Linked DNA regions of Homo sapiens. The protein of the gene in region 1 interacts with the protein of each later gene in a biochemical or structural test. Each region holds a gene or a part of one and is shown in the gene's direction. Other genes may lie near its edges.

The links.
Region 2: of the proteins of MAPK1 (region 1) and TPR, one has a biochemical effect on the other in vitro, tested with the Homo sapiens proteins (2 studies listed by BioGRID).
Region 3: of the proteins of MAPK1 (region 1) and PPP2CA, one has a biochemical effect on the other in vitro, tested with the Homo sapiens proteins (2 studies listed by BioGRID and IntAct).
Region 4: of the proteins of MAPK1 (region 1) and TNFRSF25, one has a biochemical effect on the other in vitro, tested with the Homo sapiens proteins (one study listed by BioGRID).
Region 5: of the proteins of MAPK1 (region 1) and CAPN2, one has a biochemical effect on the other in vitro, tested with the Homo sapiens proteins (one study listed by BioGRID).
Region 6: of the proteins of MAPK1 (region 1) and PTPRB, one has a biochemical effect on the other in vitro, tested with the Homo sapiens proteins (one study listed by IntAct).
Region 7: the proteins of MAPK1 (region 1) and HDAC6 form a complex in vitro, tested with the Homo sapiens proteins (2 studies listed by BioGRID).

What each region holds. Positions count from the first base shown.
Region 1 is NC_000022.11:21,790,729-21,794,954, reverse strand, and holds part of MAPK1 (mitogen-activated protein kinase 1), read left to right. Parts: intron 1-4,226. UniProt on the Homo sapiens protein: Serine/threonine kinase which acts as an essential component of the MAP kinase signal transduction pathway. MAPK1/ERK2 and MAPK3/ERK1 are the 2 MAPKs which play an important role in the MAPK/ERK cascade.
Region 2 is NC_000001.11:186,364,918-186,369,143, reverse strand, and holds part of TPR (nucleoprotein TPR), read left to right. Parts: intron 1-1,161; coding exon 1,162-1,258; intron 1,259-4,226.
Region 3 is NC_000005.10:134,219,356-134,223,581, reverse strand, and holds part of PPP2CA (serine/threonine-protein phosphatase 2A catalytic subunit alpha isoform), read left to right. Parts: intron 1-4,226. UniProt on the Homo sapiens protein: Catalytic subunit of protein phosphatase 2A (PP2A), a serine/threonine phosphatase involved in the regulation of a wide variety of enzymes, signal transduction pathways, and cellular events.
Region 4 is NC_000001.11:6,462,984-6,467,827, reverse strand, and holds the start of TNFRSF25 (tumor necrosis factor receptor superfamily member 25 isoform 2 precursor), read left to right. Parts: upstream 1-1,654; 5' UTR 1,655-1,720; coding exon 1,721-1,759; intron 1,760-2,267; coding exon 2,268-2,388; intron 2,389-2,605; coding exon 2,606-2,740; intron 2,741-3,108; coding exon 3,109-3,276; intron 3,277-3,374; coding exon 3,375-3,453; coding exon of another isoform or gene 3,454-3,457; exon of another isoform or gene 3,458-3,717; intron 3,718-4,680; coding exon of another isoform or gene 4,681-4,700; coding exon 4,701-4,756; coding exon of another isoform or gene 4,757-4,763; intron 4,764-4,844. Other genes in the region: PLEKHG5 (pleckstrin homology domain-containing family G member 5), read left to right, coding at 1-3, 256-265. UniProt on the Homo sapiens protein: Receptor for TNFSF12/APO3L/TWEAK. Interacts directly with the adapter TRADD. Mediates activation of NF-kappa-B and induces apoptosis. May play a role in regulating lymphocyte homeostasis.
Region 5 is NC_000001.11:223,753,714-223,757,939, forward strand, and holds part of CAPN2 (calpain-2 catalytic subunit), read left to right. Parts: intron 1-1,766; coding exon 1,767-1,936; intron 1,937-3,655; coding exon 3,656-3,667; intron 3,668-3,991; coding exon of another isoform or gene 3,992-4,018; exon of another isoform or gene 4,019-4,226. UniProt on the Homo sapiens protein: Calcium-regulated non-lysosomal thiol-protease which catalyzes limited proteolysis of substrates involved in cytoskeletal remodeling and signal transduction. Proteolytically cleaves MYOC at 'Arg-226'.
Region 6 is NC_000012.12:70,567,450-70,571,675, reverse strand, and holds part of PTPRB (receptor-type tyrosine-protein phosphatase beta), read left to right. Parts: intron 1-225; exon of another isoform or gene 226-386; coding exon 387-650; exon of another isoform or gene 651-1,737; coding exon 1,738-2,001; exon of another isoform or gene 2,002-2,178; intron 2,179-4,226. UniProt on the Homo sapiens protein: Plays an important role in blood vessel remodeling and angiogenesis. Not necessary for the initial formation of blood vessels, but is essential for their maintenance and remodeling. Can induce dephosphorylation of TEK/TIE2, CDH5/VE-cadherin and KDR/VEGFR-2.
Region 7 is NC_000023.11:48,804,874-48,809,099, forward strand, and holds part of HDAC6 (protein deacetylase HDAC6), read left to right. Parts: intron 1-564; coding exon 565-649; intron 650-757; coding exon 758-798; coding exon of another isoform or gene 799-802; exon of another isoform or gene 803-1,494; coding exon 1,495-1,591; exon of another isoform or gene 1,592-1,735; coding exon 1,736-1,833; exon of another isoform or gene 1,834-2,087; intron 2,088-3,159; coding exon 3,160-3,264; intron 3,265-3,384; coding exon 3,385-3,453; intron 3,454-4,226.

The sequences.
Region 1 (4,226 bases):
TTAGCCTCCCAAGTAGCTGGGATTACAGGCACCTGCCACCACGCCTGCCTAATTTTTGTATTTTTAATAGAGATGGGGTTTCACCACATTGGCTGGTCTCAAACTCCTGACCTCAGATGATCCACCCACCTCAGCCTCCCAAAGTGCTGGGATTACAGGCATGAGCCACCGTGCCTGGCTTTTTTTTTTTTTTTTTTTTTTTGAGACGGGGTTTCTCTCTGTCACCCAGGCTGGTAGCCACCCCCTCCTCAAGCGATCCTCCAGCCTTGCCTCCTGTGTAGCTGGGACTACAAGCGTGTACCACCATGCCCGGCTAATTTTTGTATGTTTTTGTAGGGACAGGGTTTTGCCATGTTGGCCAGGCTGGTCTCAAACTCCTGGGCTCAACTGATCCACCCACCTCAGCCTCCCAAATTGCTAGGATTGCAGGCATGACCCACTGCGCCCAGCCAAGATCCCTTTACATTTGTTAAAAATTATCAAGGACCAGCTGGGCATGGTGGCTCACACTTATAATCCTAGCACTTTGGGAGGCCGAGGCGGGTGGATCAGTTGAGCCCAGGAGTTCGAGACCAGCCTGGCCAACATGGAGAAACCCTGTCTCTACTAAAAATACAAAAAATGCACTGGGCATGGTGGCACACACCTGTAATCCCAGCTACTTGGAGGCTGAGGCAGGAGAATCGCTTGAACCTGGGAGGTGGAGGTTGCAGTGAGCCGAGATCTTGCCACAGTACTCCAGCCTGGGTGACAGAGTGAGACTCTGTCTCAAAAAAAAAAAAAAAGTCAAGGACCCACACACCTTTTTTTAGTTACGTAGGTTATATCTATTGTTATTTACAATATGAAACTTTTTTTTTTTTAATTTTTGGAGAGAAGTCTGGCGCTTGTCCCCCAGGCTTGAGTGCAATGGCTCAATCTTGGCTCACTGCGACCTCTGCCTCCCGGGTTCAAATGATTCTCCGGCCTCGCCTCCCGTGTAGCTGAGACTACAAGTGTGTACCACCATGCCCGGCTAATTTTTGTATTTTTTAGTACAGATGGGGTTTCACCATGTTGGCCAGGCTGCTCTTGAACTTCTGACTTCAGGTGATCCACCCGCCTCGGCTTCCCAAAGTGCTGGGGTTACAGGCATGAGCCACCACACCCGGCCTACAATATGAAACTTTAAAATGTATTAATTAATTTTTAAATAGTAAACCCACTACATGTTAAGATAAATTACATGTTTTTCTTAAGAATAAGTTTATTTTCTACAATAAAAACGTTTTAGTGAGGCCAGGCATGATGGCTCTCACCTATAATCCCAACACTTTGGAAGGCCAATGCAGGAGGATCACCAGGAGTTTGGAACCAGCCCTGGTGACATAGTGAGACTCTGTACAAAAAAGAAATTTATTTATTTATTTATTTATTTTTTGAGACGGAGTCGTGCTCTGTCACCCAGGCTGGAGTGCAGTGGTGTGATCTCAGCTCACTGCAAGGTCCGCCTCCCAGGTTCACGCCATTCTCCTGCCTCAGCCTCCCGAGTAGCTGGGACTACAGGCGTCCGCCACCACGCCTGGCTAATTTTTTTGTATTTTTAGTAGAGACAGGGTTTTAACCATGTTAGCCAGGATGGGCTCAACCTCCTGACCTTGTGGTCCACCTGCCTCGGCCTTCCAAAGTGCTGGGATTACAGGTGTGAGCTGCTGTGCCCTGCCATCTGTACAAAAAATTTTAAAATCAGCTGGGCATGGTGGTGTGCACCTATAGTTCCAGCCACTCAAGAGGCTGAGATGGGAGATTTTCTTGAGCCCAGGAAATTGAGGCTGCGGTGTACCGTGATCACGCCACTGCACTCCAGCCTGGGCAACAGGGTGAGACCCTGTCTTTAAAAAAAGCAAAACGAAAAACAACCTTTTAGTGAGAAGAGTGGCATTGTTTTCATTTTTGCAAGTCTCTTTAATGTCTGGCTTAATAGAAGACAGTTGGATTCTCATCTGGTTCTGCATTCAGTCTGTCAAATATGTTGTTTTGGTTTAAGTTCATGAGGAAAACTCTTTTTTTTTTTTTTTTCAGGCTTTAATCAATTTAATAATCAATATAATATTACATGCATAGTTCTTCAAAAATGTCAAGGAAAACTCTTTCCCATGGATTTTAACTGCTTGAATTCAGAGCATAGAAAACAGAAGAAAACTTGAGTGCAATATTAATAAAGACCCTTTAAAAAAGATGTTATATAAAAAGAAAAATCGCAAGCCAGTGAAAAATACATGCAAAATTCTAAATAACATTTTAGCAAACAAAATCTATGCTTAAAAGCATAACACACAAAAAAGTGAGATTTTTCCCTAGTATGTAACAGTAATCAGACATTTTATCAAGACATTTACAAATAAGCCTAAAAATAGATGTCTGAGTGCTATTTATGAAATTCAAGATCTATTCCTCCCATCCAAGCACTAACCAGGCCAACCCTGCTTAGCTTCCGAGATCAGACAAGATCGGGCGTGTTCAGGGTGGTATGGCCAGAGGAAAACTCTTCACACAGGTATGTAGCTGGAAAAAGGAGGGAAATTTTAGTAGTCTTTTCAGCCACTTGTGGCTATTCTTTGATCCTACCCCCAGTTTAAACAAGTGGTGGTTTCTTAAAGGTTAATTGCAGTGTGGAATCTGAAATCATATCAGTGAATTCTTGATACTATTTCGTTAAAATCCATTAGTCTACCTTGCACTCATACTCATGCATGATTTTTTAGCGTATTTGGAAAATACTGGTTCACTGAGTTACACAGATATTCCAAGTGTCACATTTTCATGTACACATCATCACTCATCATATTGCATCTGGAAAAATCTTCTTTTCACTCGTGACTGAAAAGGATGAAAATGTCATAGTAGTATAATAAATGTACTGTGACCTCTCAGATCCTCTAGAGGGAACCCATAGGAGTCTCTGGAACACTCTTGTAGAACCGCCAGATAGAACTCCTAAATACCCTTTACCCCAGATTCAGGCTCACCGATTTTTTATCTTTTGCCCCATTTGCTTTATCATTCTTTGTGTGCATGTGTGTGGGCACTCCCACGCACTCTGAGTCATTTGAGAGTAAATTGTAGATACACCCCTTCACCTTGTTTCAGTATGTCTTTACTTCAAACCATGGTCCTGTTGTTCCCTGGGGACATGTGGCAGGGTTGTCACAGTGAGGGGTAGGGGTACTCCCTGCATCAAGAGGCCAGAGATGCTGCTAAAAATCCTACGATATACAGAACAGCCCTCCAAACAGAAACTTTCTCAGCCCAAAATGTTAGTCATACCGAGGTTGAAAAACCCTGCCTTAAGAGTATTCTCTAACATGACCACAGTACAGTTTTCAAAATCAAGAAACTTAATACTGATTCAGTATCTAATGCACAGTTTATATTCACATTTTAGATATTATCCCAATAACCTTTGAACTATACCCCACCCAAACCACCCCCCGACCTGGGCACAGGTTCACATGTTGTACTGTCATGAGTTTTGTTTGTTTGCTTGTTTGCTTGCTTGTTTTAAGACCAGGTTCGCAGGCCAGCCACAGTGGCTCACACCTGTAATCCCAGCACTCTGGGAGGCCAAGGTGGGTGAATCACATGGGGTCAGGAGTTCGAGATCAGCCTGGCCAACATGGCAAAACCCTGTCTCTGCTAAAAATACAAAAAATTTAGCTGGACATAGTGGCAGGCACCTGTGATCCCAGCTACTCAGGAGGCTGAGGCAGGAGAATCGCTTGAACCCAGGAGGTGGAGGTTGCATGAGCTGAGATCGTGCCATTGCACTCCAGCCTGGGTGACAAAGCAAGACTCCGTCTCAAAAAAAAAGGACGGGTTCTCATTCTGTCACCCAGGCTGGGGTACCGTGGCACCATCTCGGCTCACTGCAACCTCCGCCTCCTGGGCTCAAGGCCATCCTCCCACCTTAGCCTCCCAAGTATCTGAGACTACAGGCACGTGCTACTGCTCATGGCTGATTTACTTATTTATTTTTGTGCTTTTCATAGAGACAGGTTGTTGTGTTTCTTTAGTCTCCTTTAAGAGTGCAGATGAGCTATTTTGTAGAATGCCCCTCAGTTTTGGGTCATGCATTTTTAACATGAATACCAGAAAAGCACTTCATTGTATTAGAAGGCACTTCTGGAGCCAGGTATGGTGCCTCATGCCGTAATCCCAGCTCTTTGGGAGGCTGAGGCAGGAGGATC
Region 2 (4,226 bases), on another chromosome or scaffold:
AATCCAAATAGTACAGTACTGACATAAAAACAGAAAAGTGACCAATGGAATAGAATAGAGAGCCTAGAAATAAATCCAAACATATGGTCAACTAATTTCAACAAGGGTGCCAAGAAGACCCAATGGAGTTGTGATCGTCTCCTCATTAATGGTGTTGAGAAGACTGGATTTCCACATTTGAAGAAATGAATGTTGGATGTTTGTGTTGCTTACATCATATACCGAAATCAAGCCAAGATGGATGAAAGATCTAAATGTAAGACCTGAAGCCATAAAACTCAGAGAAGTGAACATAGGGGAAAGGTTCTTGACATTGGCCTTGGTAATGATTGTTTGGATCACATCAGTAGTTCAAGCTGCAAAAAGAAATAAACGGAACTACATCAAACTAAAAAGCTTCTACACAGGAAACAAGAATATTAAAAGGCAACCTACAGTTCTGACATAGGTAGCTTGAGATAGATATTTCTAACTCAAAAACATGTAGATTGCCATTGTTTTGCTGGGAAGCAGTTTGACAAGTTTTTTGTTTTTGAGACAGGGTCTCACTCTGTCACTCAGGCTAGAGTGCAGTGATGCAGTCTTGGCTCACTGCAACCTCTGCCTCCCGGGCTCAAATGATCATCCCACCTCAGCTTCCTGAGTAGGTGGGACCGCAGGCATGTGCCACCATGTCTGGCTGTTTTTTTCTACTTGTAGAGACTGGGTTTCGCTGTGTTGCCCAAGCTGGTCTTGAACTCCTAGACTCAAATGATCGGCCCAGCTTGATTTCCCAAAGTGCTGTGATTACAGGCATGAGCCACTGCACCTGGCTGACAAAATATATTAAAAGTTTTAAGTAATTCAATTTTTAGGAATCTTTCTTGAAAAATAATTTGAACTAAGGTGTAAATACAGTGATATTCTAAGTTATTAGGACATTTCCATGTGATTAAAAGAGATATGAGAAAAATTTTCATAAGCCTAGTAAAAATGTTTTAAAAATCCAAAATTTAAATAGAAACATTGGAATTACGGGTATTTTTTAACTTTGATGTGTAAGTTATAAGAGAAAGCCAGTCATTTACACTACAGCTGATGTTAACTAAAGTGACAATTCTATGTTCGCTTTCCTGTATTGCTCTACTTGATTTTCTTACTTATTACTTCTTTATATGACAGAGCCAATTTACAAGAACAAAGGAAGAATTAGAAGCTGAGAAAAGAGACTTAATTAGAACCAATGAGAGACTATCTCAAGAACTTGAATACTTAACAGGTATGAAGAAGTGCTTGTAGCTTTTAGCTCCATTCCTTTATTTTTCTTCTGTTAGTGCTAGGAGTTAGTGCTCAGCCCATTTCTGTTGCTGATATTTTTTTGTTATGGTTGAGTATAGAGTTGTCATATCCTATTATTTCTCCTACTCATTTATCTTTAAATCATTGTCAAGTGTTTAAAGAAGTGTCTAGAAAGTGCACAAGTGAAGAACATCTCAAAGAAGTAGTAATTTGGACCAGATTTTACATGCAAAGATTTTCACTACAATGCTGTACATAATGTCAAATTGGAAGCACTTTAAATATTTGCAAAGGCTGAACTACTGTTCTTTATTTCATATGGACATCCTTGCTATATAATAAGCATTCAATATAAGAACATATACTCAGCCTATATTTATAAACAGACTGAAGGAGGCAGAGACATAAAATACATAAACATAGACTGTAGTATATAATACAGCTGATGTAGTCAGGTGAACTTGACTCTGAAGCAGTTAATGGTAAGAAGTTTCCTTTGGTGCCCAGGCACGGTGGCTGACGCCTGTAATCCCAGCACTTTGGGAGGCTGAGGTGGGTGGATCATGAGGTCAGGAGTCCAAGAGCAGCCTGGCCAAGATGGTGAAACCCCGTCTCTACTAAAAATAACAGAAATTAGCCAGTCATGGTGGCACGCACCTGTAATCCCAGCTACTTTGTAGGCTGAGGCAGAGAATTGCTTAAACCCAGGAGCCGGAGGTTGTAGTGAGCCAAGATTGCGTCACTGCACTCCAGCCTGGGCGACAGAGCTAGACTCCGTATCAAAAAAAAAAAAAAAAAAAAAAAAGGTGTTTTGGGTTCTTTTTTTTTTAATGGTTTTTGAAATTTTTTTATTTCTATAAAAGAAAGGATTTTCAGATATTTATATCATTATACAATAATATTCCATTAGTTAAGTATACTTTCCCAGTCTCACAAGAGTTCCTTCAAAATACTTGAGTGTGTTGATCAACAAGTGGTAGTTACAACTAAACGAATTCATAAAATCTAGATATTTAATAGATAGTTTTTTAAAAATGTGTATTCCATATTGAGTAGGTTTTTATATTAGTGCTTTTTAGCTTAATGATTATTTATAAAATTTTAATAGGTCTTTGGATATATATCAGGAAAATTAAGGTTAACGTTGAATATTTAGCTTAACACACTGTATTTAAAATAAATTTGGATAATTCACAAGTTTGGATACACAAATTTCAATTTTTTGTCATATATTTGTAGAAATTGAATTTGTAATTAACTATGGCAGAAACAAGTTAAAATAAGAGAGTTGAGAACTACAGTTGACCCTTAAACAACACAGTGGTTAGGGTTGCTGATTCCCCCCACAGTTGAAAATTTATGTGTAACTTTTGACTCCCCAAAAACTTAACTACTGCTGTTAACTAGAAGCCCTACCAATAACATACACAGTAGATTGTCATACGTTTTGTCTGTGATCTGTATTATATACTGTGCTCCTTCAATAAAGTAAGCTAGAGAAAAAAATGTTAAGAAAATCATAAGGAAGAGAAAATACGTTTACTGTACATTAAATGGAAGTGGATCATCACAACCATCTTCATCCTCCTTGTCTTTACATTACCTAGGCTGAAGAAAAGGGGTTGGTCTTGCTGGGTCAGGTTGCAGAGGTAGAAGGGGAGGCAGAAGAGGGAGGCACACTCAATGTAACTTTACGAAATACAGCCTAATTTCTGTCTGACTTGCTTTTTCATTTCTCTAAAAATGTTTCTATACATTACCAATCTTCCTTCCACCGTTTGCTATAGTTTCAGTGCCCATGTAAGAGAAGGATCCATGTCATAAAAGAAATCAAAAGCAGTCTTGGGTAATCAGAACCCTTCCACCAGATAGTCTGTTACCAATATGTTTTCTGACACTGCTAGTTCTACATTCTTTTTCCACATCGTCTGGCACTGGTTTGGAAGCACTCATCTCCATCCAGTCATCTTCTGTTAATTTATCTGATATGGTGGCTATTAGCTCTTGGATTTCTCCAAGGTCCGTATCTTGAAACCCTTCATCCCACTTTTTTTGCCATATCCACAATCTCTTTCATGATTTCTTTGATTGGCTCTGTTACAAATTTTGTGACATCATGCACAACATCTGGAGAGTTTCCTCCAACAGGAATTTATTATTTCAGCCTTGATGGCTTTCATAACTTTTTCTGTAATGAAAAAGAAGGGATGGCCTCTTCAGTGTGTTATCCTTTAAAACTTTCATGATATTTTCTCTGTTGGGGTTCTCTTCCACAGTGTTGACATTTTCTTTTCACAAAGTATCATCTCTATTGAGCCGTAAAGGTCCTTATGACTCCTGATCTAAAGGCTGAATTAGAAACATGTTTGGGAGCAAGTAGACTGCTTTGACACCTTCCATGTTGAACTCCTGGGTTCTGGGTGGCCAGGGACAGTGTCTAAAGTCAAAAGAACTTTAAAGGCAGCCCCTTGGCCAGGTACGGTGGCTCATGCCTATAATCCCAGCACTTTGGGAGGCCGAGGCAGGTAGATCACCTGAGGTCAGGAGTTCGAGACTAGCCTGGTCAACATGGCAGAACCCCATCTCTACTAAAAATACAAAAATTAGCTGGGCGTGGTGGTAGGCGCCTGTAATCCCAGCTACTCAGGAGGCTGAGTCATGAGAATCACATGAACCAGGGAGGCAGAGGTTGCAGTGAGCCAAGATAATGCCACTACACTCCAGCTAGGGGGATAGAGCGAGACTGTCTCCAAAAAAAAAAAAGGGCAGCCCCTTTACTAGCAAGGTACTTTCTGACTTTAGGGACAAAGCATGAGTGGAACCAATTCAGAGAAGGGGGTCTGTCATTGTCCAGGTCTTCTTCTTGTGTAACCAGAAGACAGGCAGCTGGTGTTTATCTTTTTCCTTTGGGCCCTGGGGTTAAAAGCTTTATAAATAAGGGCAGTCCT
Region 3 (4,226 bases), on another chromosome or scaffold:
GCAAATTTTAGTTCTGAGTGCCAAAAAAGATGGAAATAATATTTGAGAGTAGGTGTTATATAAAAGTTTCTGTGGAATGGATCCGTTTTGGTGGATATCATTATACAACCTTCATACTGTTTATAACTGGTAAGTAAGTATTTCAACTTTCAGGATGATATTAAACTTCCAAACTAAATTAATTTGAAGACAGTTTTTTGGGTATGTAGAATCCATGAACTGATGTTTTTTGTACAAGTCTTTCTAGTAAAACAAAAGCTGTCTTTCACTGTTAATATTTGTGTGCCAATGGCATCTCTGGGTGAAAGCTACATATGTGCTTTTTGGTGTGATTGCCTTCTAAAGAGTAATTTTGAAAATTTGAGGGCTAATTTTTTTCATTAGTGTATAATAATAGTATTTTTTGAGAAAAAAGATACTTGTTAATAGTTGATAATTTCTTCAATCATAAGAAGGAATGATAATGTAAAAGCCTTCCTTCTACCCACCTAAATGCCTGATTTGAAGGGGAAATATTTAAATAGTAAAAATAGATGTATACCATAAGAGGTCATTGTTACTAAAAAATCCTGAGGCCATTATTTTGTTAACCCATCAACAATTAACAGTGTTACATGTTCAGAACTGAGAGAATCTAAGTATGCATTTATAAAAGACAAGAGTGAACATGGTTTTTATGTTACTGACTAGCTAAAAAGAATTTTAAGATGTGATTAAGACTTATACAAAAGCCAAGGTTGTTAGTGTATAGTATACTTTGTCATCTTGAGAATCATAATTTGTTGATAGTTTAATAATTTGGTGTGCAGCTTTGCCTCAGGCTCAGTTCTATAATCAGCATTACATCAGTATAACTGGCCGGGTATGTTTCAATCTACAGATTGAAAGGAGTAAATAGTATCAACTTGCTTTTGCATTGACTACAGTAAACAATCTTTTATTATGTGACTTCAGCTTTGTTTTAGCTTGGGTATGATTTCTTGGCTTTGTGCTTACCAAACATGTGGAGAACGTTGTTTGATAGCCAGATTTTTTTTTTTCAAAGAAGTTCTTTACCTAGGTATGCTGTTTTCCATTGCTTTGCAAGCACTATAAATAAAGTGCAGTCATTAGTCATTAAAATGTTAGTTTTAACATTTGTTACGTGAGTATGGAAAAAACAAACTGCTTCCTTCTAATTAGATGAGCTGAAAAATATTTGACCAAGATGACATTCTTATATGAATTGGGTAATATGTTGCTGTGAGTATGTGTGTACGTTTCATTTTAAAGGGTGTTTGGCTCATTTCTCTAGAAGTGATTTGAATATTGAGGACAAGCAGGTGGGGGAAGCATGTTACAGAACATTATTTTTATCATACTTTTATAAGATATTGTTCTCAGTTACAGATGCAACTCAAAGACTCAGAAAGGTAAAGTGACTTGACTAAAGGGGCTAAAAGTGAGATTGCCAAGGCTTGTGGATTCTAAGCCTAATGTTCTGGTATTGCTTCACAGATCCCCTTCTGTTTTCAGAGGTAGTGTTAGTAGTGAAAGATGTAGGTAAATTGGGGCCAAGCTAAATTGGGAAGTCAACACTTTCATAAAATAAAACTTTTTTTTTTTTTTTTTTTTGAGATAAGGTCTTACTCTTTTGCCCAGTCTGGAGTGCAGTGGCGCAATCTCGGCTCACTGCAACCTCCACCTCCCAGGTTCAAGCAGTTCTCCTGCATCAGTCTCCCTAGTAGCTGGGATTACAGGTACCCACCACCATGCCCAGCTGTTTTGTATTTTTAGTAGAGATGGGATTTCACCATGTTGGCCAGGCTAGTCTCGAACTCCTGACCTTCAGTGATCCACCCACCTCAGCCTCCCAAAGTGCTGGGATTACAGGCTTGAGCCAGCGCGCCTGGCCAAGACATTATTTTTATTTTCATTGCTTGAAAGCTTCCTATTCATGTTACATACTGTTGTTCCTCTTTGTCTTGGAAAGAGTAATTATTATTCAGTTTTGGATGTAGCTGACAACATTTGCCCCTCAAATGAGATTGGTGAGATGAAAACCCTAGATAATTTCCCTTGTATTCTTAGTATAAATCATGATCCAGAGACTGAGCTCTAAAGTATTCTAATAAAGTATAACTGACTTTTTATATTGTTTATTGCAACTTATAAAATGCCTCTTTTCAGCAGGGCAAGGTGGCTCACACGCCTGTAATCCTAGCACTTTGGAAGGCCACGGCAGGCGGATCACGAGGTCAGGAGACCAAGACCAATCCTGGCTAACACGGTGAAGCCCCGTCTCTACTTAAAAATACAAAAAATTAGCCGGGCGTGGTGGCACACACCTGTAGTCTCAGCTACTGGGGAGGCTGAGACAGGAGAATTGCTTGAACCTGGGAGGCGGAGGTTGCAGTGAACCAAGATTGTGCCACTGCACTCCAGCCTGGGCGACAGAGGGAGACCCCATTCCCCCCGGCCCCAAAAAAGCCTCTTTTCATCCTCTTGGCTTCCACAGTCAAATGTCATGCATGTGTGTATTTGTTTCATGGTCTCCTAGGCAGGAAGCTGTAATGCAGTTAGTTTGGAGTTGACTTCATGAGGAAACAGAAAAGGTGAACATTCCCACTATTCAGAAACACAGGTTCCCCAACCCTCCCTACGTTCTCCACTGGGACCAGAATTGTATGTTTTCAGAAAATTGGCTGTAAGGCTAAGTTGAAGCTCATGTACTGTAGAAAGAATGAAGGACCCTTCAGGAGTATGTGGGATAACATTTGTATTACCAGTCTGGTGTGGCCCTGTTTTATGGCAGCAAATATGTTCCCTATCTCATGGTAAGTCAGGTTTGTCAGAGTTACCTGTGAGATAGCCTTTGCTTAGTTTGGAAGGGGTAAGTTAGGAAAACTAAGAGACTGGGTTTGGTGGGGTCTTTTATCAGGGTACTGAGGAGAGAGGCAAAGCTATATGTAACAGGGAGACACTATTTATTCTTTCTGCTTTGACCCATTTCTCTTACTTCATTATCATCCTTGCCTGAGAAAGCTGTCAACCTCCACTCATACACAGGCAGATCTGAATTGGATGAGAACCATGAAGGAGGAAGATTTTTGTTTTTGTGGGCTTTTTTTTTTTTTTTTTTTTTTGAGATAGAGTCTCACAGTCGCCCAGGCTGGAGTGCAGTGGTGTGATCTCGGCTCACTGCACCCTCTGCCTCCCAAGTTCAAGCAGTTCTCCTGCCTCAGCCTCCCAAATAGTTGGGATTATAGGTGTGTGCCACCACACCCAGCTAATTTTTGTATTTTTAGTAGAGACAGGGTTTCACCATGTTGGCCAGGCTGGTCTTGAACTCCTTACGTCAAGTGATCCACCCATCTCAGCCTCCCAAAGTGCTAGGATTACAGGCATGAGCCACTGGCACCAGACCTGTTTTTGTTTTAAATAGATTTTCTTTTGGCTTCTGGGGCAGAAGTGGTAGACCAGGCTGAAGAAGGGAGAGGTGTCTATTGTCAGTAAATGGCTGAGAGGTGGGGTTTGAAAGAATGGTAAAGAACAACCTGAGATTAACTGCTTTTTTTTTTTTTTTTTTTTTGATACGGAGCCTCGCTCTGTTGCCCAGGCCAGAGTACAGTTGCATGATCTCGGCTCACTGCAACCTTTGTCTCCCACGTTCAAGTGTTTCTCCTGCCTCAGCCTCCTGAGTAGCTGGGATTACAGGCATGTGCCACCATGCCTAGCTAATTTTTTTATTTTTAGTAGAGACAGGGTTTCATCATGTTGGCCAGGCTGGTCTTGAACTGCTGACCTCAAGTGATCCGCCCGCCTCAGCCTCCCAAAGTGCTGGGATTACAGGTGTGAGCCACTGTGCCCAGCTAACTGCTTAACTTCTTCACATTGCAGTATTATTGCCTGTTTATTGGTCTGTTGTGGATTGTGGTTTAGAATGGATGAACAAGGCAGTGACACAGATGCGTGTATATCTGAATCTGGGTATTTTTTAAACTAAATGTGACCAGTTGGCCAGTCCCTCTTGCACCCTGTGTTGCCACTTCTGCCTTAGTTTAGTCATTTAGTTGCTACTACAGATGGGGATTTTTACCCTGCTGGTGTTGAGGCTGGAAGGTTGCAAACCTTTGTCCTAGATGGGGACGAGGAGTAGAATGGGAGACAAGCAGTAGCATGTGTTTACCTGGCCAAAGGCCTGCAAAATGTAGTTCACAGAGGTTATGGAGTGTCATTGATGCTAT
Region 4 (4,844 bases), on another chromosome or scaffold:
CTCGTGAGTGGCCTGGACTGGGGTAGGGCAGGTGGCTCAGGGCACTGGCATGGGGGCCCACTCATGCCTGGGAGCATCGCATTTGGGGAGGGTCATGGCGGAGGGAGCCTGAACCCTGCCCAGTGTCTGGGCGCAGGGGGCTGTGGTGGGCAGCAGTGAAGGGGCCTGAGGAGTGCCGTGGGGAAGAGAGGGTGACCAGAGCCACTCTGAATGGCGTCAGCCAAAGAAGGACTCTGTCCCCTCCCCACCCTGTAGGGAGGTCTGAGCAGAGGGAGGCCCCCAAGAGTGCCATTGACCAAGAGACAGCAGACAGCCTGCCTCCTGGGGCGTGCCGGCACCTGCTTCAGCTACTGCCTCCTGTATGCATGAGCCGGATGCTGGGCAGGATCCCTGCCTACGCCCGGGCCCGATTTGCGCTTTGCCGGACTGGATGGAGTGGAGGAGGCCCAGGCCACAGTACCACCCCACCTGCCCAGGCAGCCCCTCGTCACCTACTCCCCGAAGTTACCAGCTCAGCTCGAGTCTTCAGGGCTGGGCTCCTAGGCTGCCCATCCTACTTCTACCCTCACTGGCCTCCAGTGGGATTCACTCCTGCCCTGCCCCCACCTTCCCAGTCCCACAGGCCACCCCTGGCTTGGGCTGGGTTCTGTGAAGTTACGTATTTATTGAGCTTTTGGTTCTTTTATAAAGACTTGTCTAGACTCCACTGGGAAGAGTCCTTTGCTTTGGGGCCCAGTGACTCGGGGCACTTGAGTTCAGGGCGGCCTCCTTGTGTTCCTGTGCTCCTCCACTTGCCACGGATGGGCCACGGATGGAGCTTGCCATGGGAAGCACTGGGAAGTAATGGGGTGTGGGGTGCCACCAGACCAACACCCCCAGACTTCCCCACCTTCAGCCACCATCAGAGCCTCTCCCCAGGTGCCCCCCGGGGATTCAGGGCTGAATCTGCCCAGTTCCCACACTCAGGCCAGCCCTCTTGGGAAGGTGGGTCCTCCATGGGGGTCCCTTCAGGAACTTTTTTTTTTTTTTTAATACAGAGTCTCACTCTGTCACCTAGGTTGGAGTGCAGTGGTGTGATGTCGGCTCACTGCAACCTCTGCCTCCCGGGTTCAAACGATTCTCCTGCCCCAGCCACTCTAGTAGCTGGAACTGCAGGTGTGCACCACCACGCCGGGCTAGTTTTTGTATTTTAAGTAGAGACGGCATTTCACCATATTGGTCAGGCTGGTCTCGAACTCCTGACCCCAAGTGTTCCGCCCGCCTCTGCCTCCCATAGTGCTAGAATTACAGGCCTGAGCTACTGCGCTTGGCCCCTTGCGGTACTTTTGGCCCAACCTCCTCCATGGCTGGGGACGCGGAGGCCGAGAGAGAAGTCACTTGCCCTGGCTCTACCTTGAAGTGGTTCTCAGGGTTGGGGCGAGAGTCGGGGTGGGGACCGAGATGCAGCTCTATCCTGTGCCCCTGGTCGCAGCAGGCAGCCCAGCGCTTCGCGTGTTCTACTTGGCCTGTCCGCTGCCGCCTAATGAGCTCAGGTCTAGGCCGAGCAGAGGGGGCACCTGGTCGGACTCGGTTGGGCTCGGGCGGCCCCGCCTCCCCCCGCCCGCCAGGCGGGCCCTTCTCGACGGCGCGGGGCGGGCCCTGCGGGCGCGGGGCTGAAGGCGGAACCACGACGGGCAGAGAGCACGGAGCCGGGAAGCCCCTGGGCGCCCGTCGGAGGGCTATGGAGCAGCGGCCGCGGGGCTGCGCGGCGGTGGCGGCGGTGAGTTGAGACGCAGGAGGCTAGGGGCAGCTTTGAGCCCTGTCCCAAGAGCCTCGGTGAAGGAAGGGGCCCCGGGCGCGTCTCCACTCCAAGCCTCACTGGGGGCTGGGTTGGCCGCCCTTTCCGATCTCGTTAAAGGCTCCTCCAGGGCGTAGCCCTTCCACTGAGAGGAAACCCCTCCCAGGAGGGTCTGGGGGCCCCAGGCAGAGCATTATCAGTGTCCCTCCCCCAACAGAAAGCATGGGTGGGGGTGGGGGCGCTGCTGGATTCCTGCTCTGGTGGAGGGGAAACTTGTGAGGGGCTGGTAAGCGCCCCCTCCGAAGCCTGGTGTGTGCGCGGGGGGAAGGAAGTTAGTTTCCTCTCCACCCATGGGCACCCCTTCTGCCCGGGGCCTGGGAAGTGGGCTGCTCTGTGGGCAAATGCTGGGGCCTCTGAAATGGAGGAGACGCAGCAGGGAGAGGCCCCACGTGGGCAGCTGCGCTGAGAGTCAGCAGCACCTGTCCCCCAGGCGCTCCTCCTGGTGCTGCTGGGGGCCCGGGCCCAGGGCGGCACTCGTAGCCCCAGGTGTGACTGTGCCGGTGACTTCCACAAGAAGATTGGTCTGTTTTGTTGCAGAGGCTGCCCAGCGGGTAAGTGGCCACAGGGGTGGGAGAGGCATGGGGCAGGCAGGGCTGGAGAGGTGGCGGGCAGGCCCGGGAGGTAAGAGGAGGCTGGCAGGGGAGGTAGGGGTAGGCTGACAGAGAAGTAGGGAGCTGGAGAGAAAGAGGGAGGGAGGGCAGGGTGGGAAGCAGGTCGGGGGTTGCTGGGCAGCCCCTCTGCCTGCCTGACCCCTGCCTGGTTCCACAGGGCACTACCTGAAGGCCCCTTGCACGGAGCCCTGCGGCAACTCCACCTGCCTTGTGTGTCCCCAAGACACCTTCTTGGCCTGGGAGAACCACCATAATTCTGAATGTGCCCGCTGCCAGGCCTGTGATGAGCAGGGTGAGGGGCTTCTCAGTGCTTGGCAGGGAGTTCCTAAGGACAGGCCTTTCTGAAGGAAGTGGCTGGCTCGGGCCCAAACTTGGGGTGTGAGGGTCCTGCACCCACCCTTGCCAGAACCCTCCACCCTGATCCTCCTTCAGGGTGCCCTTGCCCCTTCTCTCTTCCTGGTGACCTTCCCATCTCTCCATGTGCCTTGGCCTCTGGTCGGCCTTAATCTCTGAGCTTCTCTCTTTTTTAGGGTAGCCCTGTACCTGTCTGTCTTTCGCCTATTTCTGTCTCCATTATCTTGGGATAATGCCTCTGCCTCTCCATGGGAGCCTTTGGCCCTGACTAACTCTCCACTCCCCATCTCCCTGCACCCCCACCAGCCTCCCAGGTGGCGCTGGAGAACTGTTCAGCAGTGGCCGACACCCGCTGTGGCTGTAAGCCAGGCTGGTTTGTGGAGTGCCAGGTCAGCCAATGTGTCAGCAGTTCACCCTTCTACTGCCAACCATGCCTAGACTGCGGGGCCCTGCACCGCCACACACGGCTACTCTGTGAGTACCCCCACCCAGGGCTCTCTACTCCCAGACCCCCTTCTCCCTGCCTGACCCACTCCTGTCCCATGGTGACGCATGCCTCTCCTGGATTGCAGGTTCCCGCAGAGATACTGACTGTGGGACCTGCCTGCCTGGCTTCTATGAACATGGCGATGGCTGCGTGTCCTGCCCCACGTAATTCCTAGCTGTCGTGGGATGGAGGGAAGGGCGGCTGGGAGCAGAGCAGGGGCCTGGGGTGGGGCAGGTGCTGCTGGTTCAGGAATAGGAAGAGGGGATAGGGAGGAGGGAGCCTTGGCCCTGTGATGGGTGGGCCCCACTTCAGGCAAACTTAGATGGCAAAAGAGCAATCTGGATCCGCCTTAGCCAGATACATAAGGGTATTTGCCTTCACTTTCAGCCAGCATTCCCCCCAGCGATCCTAGCCAGATATTACAGATGATTTGTCACTTACACAGAGAGTCACATTGATATAGCTTTAAAACTTGGGCTGAAGGAGGTTGAGGCTGCAGTGAGCTATGATCGTGCCACTGCACTTCAGCCTGGGCAACAGAGCGAGACCTATTAAATAAATAAATAAATATTAAATCTATTAAATATTAAATATTAAATCTATTAAATAAATAAATACAAAGGGCTGAGAGTCAGGACTGTGCTGCTAGTTCTCTAGGGGATCTTGGGCAAGTGCAGAGAATTCGCGTCTCTGATGTGTGGTGTCCCTTTCTCAACATGGGATGTTAGCAGCTAATTCACAGGCCTTTGATCAGAGGTAAGGGACTTTCTGTAGCTATTCAAGTCTTTTTTTTTTTTTTTTTTTTTTTTTTTTGAGATGGAGACTTGCTCTGTCACCCAGGCTGGAGTGCAGTGGCACGATCTTGGCTCACTACAACCTCTGCTGCCTGGGTTCAAGTGATTCTCCTGCCTCAGCCTCCCAAGTAGCTGGGACTACAGGAGCCCACCACCACCCCCGGCTAATTTTTTGTATTTTTAGTAGAGACGGGGTTTCACCGTGTTAGCCAAGATGGTCTTGATCACCTGACCTCGTGATCCACCCGCCTTGGCCTCCCAAAGTGCTGGGATTACAGGCATGAGCCACCGCGCCCGGCCTCCATTCAAGTCTTTATTGAATATCTGCTATGTTCTACACACTGTTCTAGGTGCTGGGGATGCAACAGGGGACAAAATAGGCAAAATCCCTGTCCTTTTGGGGTTGACATTCTAGTGACTCTTCATGTAGTCTAGAAGAAGCTCAGTGAATAGTGTCTGTGGTTGTTACCAGGGACACAATGACAGGAACATTCTTGGGTAGAGTGAGAGGCCTGGGGAGGGAAGGGTCTCTAGGATGGAGCAGATGCTGGGCAGTCTTAGGGAGCCCCTCCTGGCATGCACCCCCTCATCCCTCAGGCCACCCCCGTCCCTTGCAGGAGCACCCTGGGGAGCTGTCCAGAGCGCTGTGCCGCTGTCTGTGGCTGGAGGCAGAGTAGGTGGTGTGCTGGGAATGCGAGTGGGAGAACTGGGATGGACCGAGGGGAGGCGGGTGAGGAGGGGGGCAACCACCCAACACCCAC
Region 5 (4,226 bases), on another chromosome or scaffold:
ACCTCAGGTGACAGGTCGCAGTCAAAACACAGTCAAAACTTTGTTTCATGCACAAAATTATTTTAAATATGCTATAGAATTACCTTCAGCCTATGTGTATAAATTATATATGAAACAGAAATGAGTTTTGTCATTAGACTTGAGTTCCATCCCTAAGATATGTTATGTATATACAAATATTCCAAAATCCAAAAAAATCCAAAATAGGAAACACTTCTGGCCCCAGGAATTTCAGATAAGGGATATTCAGCCTGCATAACATTCTATCTAACCTTCCCAACAAACTTCTGAGGCAGGCACTTTCTTATCACCTCCATCTCTAAGATGAGGAAACTGAGGCTTGGAGAGGCTAGTGACTTGCTGAAGGCCACAGAGCGTGCTGGGATTTGAACCCAGGCCCCCTGACTGAGGAGTCACTGTGTAAGTACAGTGGCAGCAGATCATGGTCACATAGTGATTCTCTGTGACAGATGAGGAAGCTGAGCCTCTAAGTCGCATACCAGGGCCACAGAGCAAGTAGTCAGACTGCGGCTAGCTGGCCTACAGTTCTGGGGCTCGGACTCCTTCACCTCAAGTATGCAGCCACCAAGTGGCAGTCCCAGAGGCGCTGGGAAGGCCCTCTGCCCCCCACAAGGGACCCCTCCTACCCACTAGATCAGGAGTCGGAAAACTCCCTCTAAAGGGTCAGATAGTAAATAATTTTGGCTTTGTGGGCCACTCAGTCTCTATAACAACAACTCTATTGCTATAACCCAAAGGCAGCCATACTTAAGCGAATGGCCGTGGCTACGTTCCAATAAAACGTTATTTACAAAAACAGGCAGCGGCCTTCGGAGCCATAGCTGCCAACCCCTACACAAGATGGTGCCTGTAATTTCACAGTTAGGGTTTTATCCCATTAGGTATGGAAAGGCAATTAGCATAATTCCCCTTAAACATGAATGAATCTTAGATTTTTTAAATAAATAGGTTTTGGAAGTAAAGAGGGCAGAGACATCAGGAGCAGGGCAAGGGAATAGGCCTGAGAGGACAAGGGACGCAGAACAAGAAAGAGTCTGGAATTATACACAGGATGTTCTTGGCCTCCGGGCTCACCGAGGGGGCGGCGACCGGCAAGTGCAGGGAGCAGATCCCGGAGTCCCCCAGGCCAGCCGAGCCCCGCCCCAGGCTCCCCATCAGAGCCCAGTGAAGAGAAGGTACCATGAGGGGAAGCCACAGCTCTAACCACCCTGCGTTCCAGAGTGACAGACCAGTCCCCAAGACAAGCCAGCCTGGAGCCAGAGAGAGAACTGCAAGAGAAAGTTTCTAATTTAGGTTCCTGTTAGATTCAGACAAGTGCAGGTCATCCTCTCTCCACAGCTACCGTCACCCGTCTCCAGCCTAACAAAGCCTGCAGTCCACACTCCAACCCTGGTGTCTCCCACCTCCTAGCCTCTCCCAACATCGCCTGCCGTCTCTGACCATCTTCTGCCATCCTCTGCCATCTCCCACCATCTCCCACTGTCTCCCACAGCCTCCCACCGCCTCTTGCCAACTCCCACCATCTCCCGCCATTTTCTGACATCTCCCGCTGTCTCCCACCATCTTCTGCCATACTCTGCCATCTCCCACCATCCCCCACCACCTCTTACCATCTCCCACCACCTCCCACCATCTCCCTTTATCTCCATCCCTCTCAGAAGCCTCCAAGCCTGAGACCAGGGCCACCCCCCACCCCCATGCATTCCTGCTCAGGGCTGGGCTCCTCTGCCCCTTTCTGGCTGCAGACACATTCTGGATGAACCCTCAGTACCTGATCAAGCTGGAGGAGGAGGATGAGGACGAGGAGGATGGGGAGAGCGGCTGCACCTTCCTGGTGGGGCTCATTCAGAAGCACCGACGGCGGCAGAGGAAGATGGGCGAGGACATGCACACCATCGGCTTTGGCATCTATGAGGTGCAGAGCGCAGGGGCTCCTGCCCTCCCTTCCCCATGTGTTCATCTCAGCCCCTGCATGGAAAGCTGACCCCAGAGGCAGAACTGGGGATGGGATCCCAGACCGGGAGCTTGGCCAAGGAAAAACAAAACTACCAGCCTGGCCAGGCTCAGGAGTAGCCCCCGTAGGGAGGCCCCTGCAGTGGCTCTGGGTTGTGGGGCCTTCTAAGCCCTTCACGGGCCCCCCACAGCCAGCCTGCAGGGAGTTCCACTCTCAAATGGCCTCCACATCCCTTCTCACATCCTCCAGGCCTGGCATTCTGGTCAGCCTACCCATCTTCAAAGAACAGAATATACTGGGCCACATCAGGCAATACTGTGAGGGCAGGACTGAGTCCATGGGTGCAGCTGCTCAGAGCTCGGCAAAGTCATTGGCCTGGATGGTGGAGAGCTTGGGGACAGGGGAACATTGGTCATGATGCTCCCCCCAGGGCTCTGATGGCTGGAGCCCAGATCCCTACACAGACTCCTGCTGTATGCGTGTTTTCCTTTCACTCTGAGCCACAGCCAGAGGGCAGCCGCATTGCAGTCTCCTCTCCGCCCTCAGGCTGGGGCTGGGGCACTGAGAACTCACCCAACACGCTGGGCCCCTGGGCTCTCCCCACTCCCTTCTGCAAAACAAGAAAGAGCTTTCGTGGGCTGCAGGTAGCCATGCGAGGAGAGGGATGAAAGGAAGGCTTTAGGGCACTGACTGGGGATGCATTTCGGTTTGATGGGCTGGAGCTGGCTCCTCCCGGCTCCCAAAGCCCATCTCTTTTCTCTGACCCATGTCTGCTGAGGTCCTTCAGCAGCCTGAAAAATGGCCCTGGCAGGGACCTGTTTACACCATGGAAAGTGGCAAATAGTACAAATCAGAGCTTCCACCCTCTCCCAAGAGCCAGTTTCCCAGCACACCCCTGGGAGAATCCAGACGAGGTGTCAGGAGAGGAGGCTCTGTGCTCACCACTGGCAACGTTGCCACCCATGGAACACTGACTTCTACCTGCTCACCCACCTGAGAAAGGCAGCTGGGCAAATACCATCAGTTGTAAAAATGCACATAGGCCTAAACCCCTCCGTCTCTGAAACAGGAGCTGAGGACTTCGGATCTGGGACAGAATCGATCCAAGGACAATGCAAATGGAATTGTGATACACAGCTTCCCTCCCACCGGCTTATGGGCTTGGAAATGCAGCCACGGGCTTTCAGAGTTGGGACGGACCTTGGGGATCACTGGGTCCTATTTTTGAGACAAGAAAACTGAGGCCAGAGAGGAGAGGGGACTTGCTCAAGGAAATGCAGACCGGACCACTGGACCTGGCTGACAGAGGCCGGCACTGCTGGCTCCTAGCCCCAGGTGTATTTCACCTCGCCTGCTGCCTCCTCCAACAGGGCCCGCCTGGCCCTCTTTCCCTGCGTGGGAGGCCGATATGGGCTTTGCCACCTTAGACAAGTCTCTTCACATCTCCATGCCTGAGATTTATACTCTAAGTTAGGAAGGGAGGTGAGGGCTTATCAACATAAGAGGATTTTCTTCAGTGTTGGAGAGGCTTTGAGTTCCTTGGAAAACAGTTACTCGGTTGAATTAGTTGATATTGCTAATGCTACAGAGAAAACGGGGGCAGCGGAAGAGAAGAGCACAGTGATGCATTTTCTTACACTGCTTTTCCGGCATCTGAATTGCATCTCCTTTATTTTGCAGGTTCCAGAGGAGGTACGTCTGGCCCATGTCCCGGGGTGCTCAGGTCACCAAAAAAGCGAGAGGCTTAGACTGCTGGAGCTCAGGGAGCGTCGTGAAGCCCGGGCAGGGGCTGGTGGTCATGAAGGATGAGTCCTGGCCACCCCTGGGGCCCTGCTGAAGTTGCCCAGGCTCTAGATCCCACTGGTCTAAGCTCTGGGCAAGGTTTCTGGAAAGTCCTTGTGGGACCCGCTGCCTCCCTGTGACCTGGCAGAGCCCATACAGGGTTTGGTTCTGGGCAGAAAATCCATGATCCTGAGACTGCAGGAGGCTTTTCACAAAGTTCTTTGTCACTCTTAGGAGAAGACTGAGTCAGGGAAAAGGTGAACCCTGCAGACTGTACTAGAAGACAACGCGGGAGCACAGAGGAGACCAGGACCCAATTCCCAGGCTGTGTGACCTTGGACACGTTACAGCTCCTCTCTGCATTTCAGGGTTTTGTTTTTTTTTTTTTTGATTTTTGGTTTGTTTGTTTGTTTTTTGTCTCGCTCTTTCACCCAGGATGAAGTGCAGTGGCATGATCTCGACTCACTGC
Region 6 (4,226 bases), on another chromosome or scaffold:
TGGCCTATAATTACAGAATATTTATTGGTAGATAAAAGCAAACATAGTGAGGGAGCAAGAAGGCTAAATGTCCCATTTTTCTTCCCTATCTTCCTGCATCATGGCATTTAGATTCTAGACTTCTTGTTTTATCTTATGATTGAGATCATAACTCATTTTATAATTATGTTCTACCAATGCTGATCATGTAACATTTATGTCAGGAAAAAACCACAATGTTAATAGTTGCTTCCAATTTTTCTTGTTTAATTATGCATGAAGTAGTGCTAGTGGTTTATTTGGGGAAGGGAGATGTTGCCAGTTCCTTGAATGTGATTCATAAATTATTATGTAGGTAAACTCTGATCAGTTCCTTTCCTGAAATGTCTTCTCATTTTTCTCCCTAGTTCCAGAGCCTGTTAAGGATCTAACATTGCGCAACAGGAGCACTGAGGACTTGCATGTGACTTGGTCAGGAGCTAATGGGGATGTCGACCAATATGAGATCCAGCTGCTCTTCAATGACATGAAAGTATTTCCTCCTTTTCACCTTGTAAATACCGCAACCGAGTATCGATTTACTTCCCTAACACCAGGCCGCCAATACAAAATTCTTGTCTTGACGATTAGCGGGGATGTACAGCAGTCAGCCTTCATTGAGGGCTTCACAGGTAATGTGAAATACTGTTCTTGAACCTGAATAGATGCAGTGGTGCATTTAACTTTCGGGTAGTTCAGGTATTTCGATTGAGCATTTGGAGGGATAAAAGGGAGACAGCAAGAAGGGACAAAGTCATGTTGATAGTGACAATGATGTTGTCCAACCTGGATGAATGAAAATAAAGTATGATGTCAGCAGAGAGTGGCGGGGTTGGAGGGTGCTTTCAGAGAAATAGCAATGAACTGATGTGATCAGCTGGTGCTTCTGAGGCACACAGATTAAGAATTAAGTGTTACTTGGGTATCACTTCTTTAGAACTCTTTTAGGAGTGTTGCCATAGTAGTTAACATGTACTGACAGTTCACCATGAACCAGACCCACAGCAAAGCATTTTATGTCTACATCTTGTTCAGTCTTCACAATGCTTTGGAAGCCAAGGCAGGAGGATAGCTTGAGCCCAGGAGTTCAAGCACAGCCTGGGCAACATGACAAAACCCTGTCTCTACAAAAAATACAAAAAAATTAGCCGGGCACGGTGTTACGTGCCTGTAGTCCCAGCTACTGGGGAGGCTGAGGTGGGAGAATCACTTGAGCCCAGGAGGTATAGGATGCAGTGAGCCATAATCATGCCATTGCACTCCAGCCTGGACAACAGACAGAGACCCTACCTCAAAAATAAAATAAAATTAAATTAAAAAAGAATCAATCTTCACAACTCTATGGGCTGGTTAGTATTATCATCACTGCCATTTTTCCTAATGAAGAAACTAAAACTTACAGAGGTCAAGTAATTTGCCTGTAGTCCCACAGCTAGTGAGTGAGAAAACCAAAACTTGGACCAAGACACCCTAACTAGCCCCTCGCTATATAATTAGCATTCCTCATTTCCACTCACCGGCTTTGACTTCCCCCTAAGCTTTCCCCCATCAACTTTAGTTCACACAGAAAAATCAGAGAAAAGTGGCAAATTGTTACTTTCTTTTTCATGTGAGTTCTCTCAGTGGGTGCCAAAACATCAGAAGCATTCAAAACTTTGTTTGAAAATTTCAACAGTTCATTCTCTAAGTGATGACTTTTAAATTTATTTTCTGTTTTAGTTCCTAGTGCTGTCAAAAATATTCACATTTCTCCCAATGGAGCAACAGATAGCCTGACGGTGAACTGGACTCCTGGTGGGGGAGACGTTGATTCCTACACGGTGTCGGCATTCAGGCACAGTCAAAAGGTTGACTCTCAGACTATTCCCAAGCACGTCTTTGAGCACACGTTCCACAGACTGGAGGCCGGGGAGCAGTACCAGATCATGATTGCCTCAGTCAGCGGGTCCCTGAAGAATCAGATAAATGTGGTTGGGCGGACAGGTAAGCATCCACCTGGAGAAGGGCTAGATTGTAGAATGCCTCATGGTTCTCCAAAATGGGACAGTGAACGGGCTCAGCTATTCACAAATCCAGATTTAAAACCACCAAAGTTTGTACAATTCAATGGTTTCAAGAGCCTTACTCATTTATTCTTTGTATTTTTCTCTTAATAGAGATCTGCAAAACAAATGAAAGGGAATCAGAAACCAAATCATTTGAACACATTTTTATACTTGCTAAAGGATAATAAAATTTTAAATTTTAACAAGCAGGCTGGGCACAGTAGCTCACGCCTGTAATCCCAGCACCCTGGAAGGCCAAGGCAGGTAGATTGCTTGAGTTCAGGAGTTCGAGACTAGCCTGGGCAACATAGCTAAACCCCATTTCTACTAAAAATACAAAAAATTAGCCAGGCGTGGTGGTGCACACCTGTAGTCCCAGCTGCTTGGAAGGCTGAGGTGGAAGAATCACCTGAGCCCGGGAGGTCAAGGCTGCAGTGAGTCGTGATCGTGCCACTGCACTCCAGCCTGGGCAACCGGAGTGAGACCCTGTCCCAATAAATAAGTAAATAAATAAATAAATAAATTTTAATAAGGAGACTTCCATAATTATGCATTTTTCAAAAGTTCTACCTTTTAAGAAAGAGTACACATCTGTGCCATCTACTTTACCTGGTAGAGCTAAAAAAACAAGTATCAAATGTATGAATAATATATCTGTTTATATCAATATCACTATTCATGTATTATTTTTGAAAGATCTCTAGCCATACTATAGTTCTCTTACAGATGAGGAAAGAACAGTTCAGAAAGCTTGTAAAACAGTATCAAGGATACGTATATAACAAGACCTAAAGCTATAATTCAAGTCTAGGTCTGTCTGGCCCCAAACCTCGTGCCCTCTCCACTGTGACACAATACTTCTTAGATGTCTCCCATTCTCATGACCACTTATTTAGTTGTGGGGTCTGGGGCTTCTATACCATGCCCTACTATGCCTCTATTTCATATCTATATTTATATCTATATCTGCATATCTTTAACCCTATGACAAATCCTGTGTTAGAAGTGGGCATTCGGGCCAGGCGCGGTAGCTCACGCCTGTAATCCCAGCACTTTGGGAGGCCAAGGTGGGTGGATCACAAGGTCAGGAGATTGAGACCATCCTGGCTAACATGGTGAAACCCCGTCTCTACTAAAAATACAAAAAATTAGCTGGGTGTGATGGCAGACGCCTGTAGTCCCAGCTACTCGGGAGGCTGAGGCAGGAGAATGGCATGAACCCAGGAGGCGGAGCTTGCAGTGAGCTGAGATCATGCCACTGCACTCCAGCTTGGTGACAGAGTGAGACTCTGTCTCCAAAAAAAGAAAGTGGGCATTCAGTAGCAAGGCAAAGCCCCTGACCTCAAGAACCTTATAATCTAGTGAAGGAGATAGAAAAGTAAAAAGGCAATTACAGTAAAACATGGTACGTGCTAAGAAAAAAGTGGTTATGAGATGTTAGAGGAGCAAACAAGAAGAGTCAGGGAAGGCTTTCAGGAGGAAGTAATATTTAAAGAAAGACTAAGAAGTCATCCAGGTGAAGTGTAAGTTGTCTTCGTTCCAACAGAGAAAACAAAGCCCTGGAGGTGAGAGAAAGGATGGCACATTTGGGAACCTACACCTTTTTTAGTATACTAGAATAAAGGCCGGGCACGGTGGCTCATGCCTGTAATCCCACATTTTGGGAAGCTGAGGTGAGTGGATAGCCTAAGTCCAGGAGTTCGAGACCAGCCTGGGCAACGTGGCAAAACCCCATCTCTACTAAAAGTATAAAAAGCAAAAGTATACTAGAATAAAAAATGTGAGGCATGTGGCCAGGTAAGTAGAGAGACCAAATCACAAAGAGCTTTGTTTGCCTGTGAAGGTGTTTTGGAATTATGGAGAGCCACTATAGGGCCATTAGCATGGGAGTGCTATGAAAATATGCTAGATAGAGTCTGCAGATTGAAAGAGTAGGAGGTAAGGACACAAGTGACTGGTCAATAGGCAGTTGCAATAATGTATGGTCTCATTTATACTTGCTAAAGGGTATGATGTGGTCCTGAGGTAGTAGCAGTACACAAAGAGGGAGTGGCTAGATTCAAGAGATAGAAGATTTAGGATACAGAAATAAAACTCGTATTTGATTATATATACAAGGGTGAGAGTGATAACTGAAGTTTCTGACTTGAACCAAGAGATAGA
Region 7 (4,226 bases), on another chromosome or scaffold:
AGTAAGTCATGGAGACAGTTGGAGGAAGAGTATTCTAGGCGGGGGTGGGGGGGCCAGCTAGAGTAAAGTTCTAGGGCTGGCTGAAGAGTATTTGGTTCAACTGAGAACCAGGGAAGAGACCAGTGTAGGTGAAGCGAAGCAAAGGAAAGAGGGAGGGGTAGGAGATGGGGTCAGAGAGGTGATGGAGGACAGATTGTTTAGGGCCTTCTGGGCATGGGTAATACTTTGGCTTTTACTCAGAATGGGATGGGAGCCTCGAAGGGACATGAACTGATTAGGGTTTTAACCAGTGTCTAGCTGCTATGCACAGAAAGGACCGTTGAGGTGGCGAGGGTCGAAGCAGGGAGGCCGAGGAGATGCCGCCACAGCCCAGGCGGGAGGGTATGGTAATAGCAGTGGCAGTGGTGAGGAGAGGGTCACACACCAGAGCTGATGGGAGGCAGGACTGACACCACAGTTTTGGGGTAAGCAGCTGTGGAAGGGTGGATGGGGAGATGTGGAGAGAACAGATGTGGAGCTCCCCAGTGTCCTCATGCATCTGTGACTGTGACTCCATCTCCCCAGCTTCCCGGAAGGCCCTGAGCGGCTCCATGCCATCAAGGAGCAACTGATCCAGGAGGGCCTCCTAGATCGCTGCGTGTCCTTTCAGGTAAGGCCCCCAAGCCAACACTCTGGGTGAAGGGCAGGGAGCTGACCTGACCTGGGTGCAGCCCATGCCTTAACCCTTTACCCCACTTTATTCCTCATCTCTCCCCAGGCCCGGTTTGCTGAAAAGGAAGAGCTGATGTTGGTTCACAGGTGAAGGCTTGGGAGCCTTGTAGGGATGGGGAGGAGCCTGCCCTGGACAAACCAGGGCAAGCTAAACGCTTTGGGAAGCAATGTCATGGTCTCTGCAGCCAGCCTTGGGCAAGTCGCTGAGCCTTTCTGAATCTGTGTCATCGCCTGTAACAAGGGGACCAGTAAACATAAGTTCCTCAGGAGAGTTTGATGTGTGTCAGGTGCTTAGAACAGGGCCTGATATATAATCAGCCCATGATGAGCTATTACTGTTATCATGATCTGATTGTGTGAATAGATGGTGGATGTGTGGACAGAGTGATCGGGGTTCCCCCAGGGGCTTCCAGATTTAGAGGCCTAGTGCTATGTGGCTTGAGGAAAGCTAGCTTCCAGAGCAGGTATCTGAGCTGAACTTTAAGAGGAGAAAAAGAGTGAGTCAGATGAAGAGGGTGACTGAGGGAAGGGAAGAACAGACAGCTGAACCAGTGTGGCCAAAGGCCTGAAAGTAGGATTTGGTGTGGCTACTGCAGGGGAGCAGAGAACATTACCTGAACTGAGGCGGGCTAGGGAAGAAACAGAATGTGTCTTATATCCTGGCTATTCCTTCAGGTTGACAGTTGGGGGAGCCAAGCCCTAATTTGACCAGGGGGTTGGTGTATGGACAGCTCAGTTGGGGAAGAGACAGGGCCCTGAATCTCATCTCCCATCTGTGTCTAGCCTAGAATATATTGATCTGATGGAAACAACCCAGTACATGAATGAGGGAGAACTCCGTGTCCTAGCAGACACCTACGACTCAGTTTATCTGCATCCGGTATGGATGAGAACTCTGCGGGCAGGGAATGGTGGCAATCTTGGGGTCCCCATCCCTATGCCCACCCCACCCTGGGGGAAGCAGCTGAGTGGATAGGGCTGTTCTCTCCCTTACTCCCTTTCTGGCTCCCCACTGTCTCTCCAGAACTCATACTCCTGTGCCTGCCTGGCCTCAGGCTCTGTCCTCAGGCTGGTGGATGCGGTCCTGGGGGCTGAGATCCGGAATGGCATGGCCATCATTAGGTAGGACTCTACAGCATTTGACTTTTTACATTGTTTTAAAGTCCTTCCTTCAAGTGTAAAATGTATTGATATGGGTAATATATTCATGTGATTCAAGAATCCAAAGGTAAAAAAGAGAATATAATTAAAAATCTGTCTCCCATCCTTGTCACCCAGACACCTGCCTCCTCTCATGGGAGGTAGTCATTGGAACCACTGACTCATGTGTCCTCCCACAAAGTCTTATTCAAGAAATAAATACCATATTTCATTGATTCTAAGGTGTACATTTTTTCATATTTGTAACATCTTGAAATCCAGATGCATCTTACAAACAGTGACATCTCAGAATTCCATTGGCAGTATTTTCTGCTTCGTTTTTGGCATGTAAAATCATGGTACATCTTATCATCATTGGCATCCCAGAACTGATGAAATGCAAAAGCTTTCTCCTCCCTCCCCTGTTTTTAACCACAAATGGTAGTAACATGACATACTCCCTTCGTACCATCTTTTCACTTACACATCTTGGAAACCTTTCTCTAACAGTATGTATCTTGGAGCCCGGTAGAACACCATTGTGTAAATGCACTCTATGTTAATCAGTCCCCGACTAATGGGCATTTTGGTTCTCCCCAGTCATTTGCTGTTTTAAAAAAATGCTACAGCAAATATGCTAGTACCTTTATAAAAATAAAATTTTATTTTACACTAACATAAAATAAAAATGTTACTTCACCCTTTTTAAAACACAGGTTGTGGGCTAAGTTCCTGCAGCAGAATGACTGGGTATGAGAATGAATGCGTTGATCATTTTATTTTTATTTTTATTTATTTATTTATTTTGAGACGGAGTCTCGCTCTGTCACCAGGCTGGAGTGCAGTGATGCAATCTTGGCTCACTGCAACCTCTGCCTCCCAGGTTCAAGTGATTCTCCTGCCTCAGCCTCCCAAGTAGCTGGGACTACAGTCGCCCGCCACCACACCCAGCTAATTTTTTGTATTTTTAGTAGAGACGGGGTTTCACCGTGTTGGCCAGGATGGTCTTGATCTCTTGACCTCGTGGTCCACCCACCTCGGCCTCCCAAAGTGCTGGGATTACAGGCCTGAGCCACCGCACCCGGCCTTTATCATTTTAGTGAACATTTTCAAATCTCCTTTGGAGACAGAGGGGTAGATTGGCAGGGGGTGAGAGTTTGAGGGCCTCCATTACTCAGTTCCCGGCAGATTTTTAGGCATCAGCATTAAAGGAATTGGTGGTCCAGGATTAGAGAGCAGGGGACAGTCTGTCTCTGCAGAGGAGGACCCCTCACATACTCCAAGCTGTTATTTCCTTGTCTTGCCCAGGCCTCCTGGACATCACGCCCAGCACAGTCTTATGGATGGCTATTGCATGTTCAACCACGTGGCTGTGGCAGCCCGCTATGCTCAACAGAAACACCGCATCCGGAGGTCAGCAACAGAGGGCAGATGTGATGGGGGTGGCATGGGGTGGGGTGTCCTGGTCTGGGCTCTTCCCCCAGATTCACCTTGATCTCCTTGCACAGAGTCCCCTCTCTCTGCTGCTCCTAGGGTCCTTATCGTAGATTGGGATGTGCACCACGGTCAAGGAACACAGTTCACCTTCGACCAGGACCCCAGGTATACCCCGACTCCCACCTAGGTGCTAGACTCCCAGCCACCTCCCACCCTTACAGGCCCAGCCAGAAGGGGTCCAGAAGGAGGAAAAGGCATTCACATTCATGGGGCCTATCCTGGGATCAGGATCTGTGCTACTTTTGTGTGTCTGCCATCTCTCCTAATTTCACTCTGAGGCAGGGACTGTTGGGTTCCCTATTTTACAGATAGGGGGACTGAGGCTTATACGTTAAGAGGTCACACAGAGAAGAACTGGGAGAGACGGGATTTGACCCACAAATATTTGAAGATCTTATTCACTGATTAACCGTTGGGTTAGAGTGAACCTCAAATTACTGCTTTATTTTTTCTGATTAGGATAATGCTTCAAAGTGTTTGTTTATCCTTTCAGTAGATAGTAAAAAACAAATATAAATAAATAAATAACAAACTATTTGTTTAAAGAAATTAAATAATACAGAAGTGTCTGAAGCAGTGAGTCTCCTCTAATTTCCATTACCTCAAAAATAAGTGTTGACAGTTTAGGTTATATCCTTACAGATTTTCTCTATAGATGTCTGAATTTTTATTATTATTGTTATAATTATTAATAACACACTGCCTAATGGAATAATTCTCCACATGTTCTTCGACAACTTGCTTTATTCATTTAACAGCATATCTGGGACATTTCTCCATGTTAGTACCTCTTAAAGTATCTCGTTCTTTGTAGTATTCAATTTTATGACTGTACCTCTGGTTATTTAACCCCAGGACTTTTAAGATGCCTGCCAGTT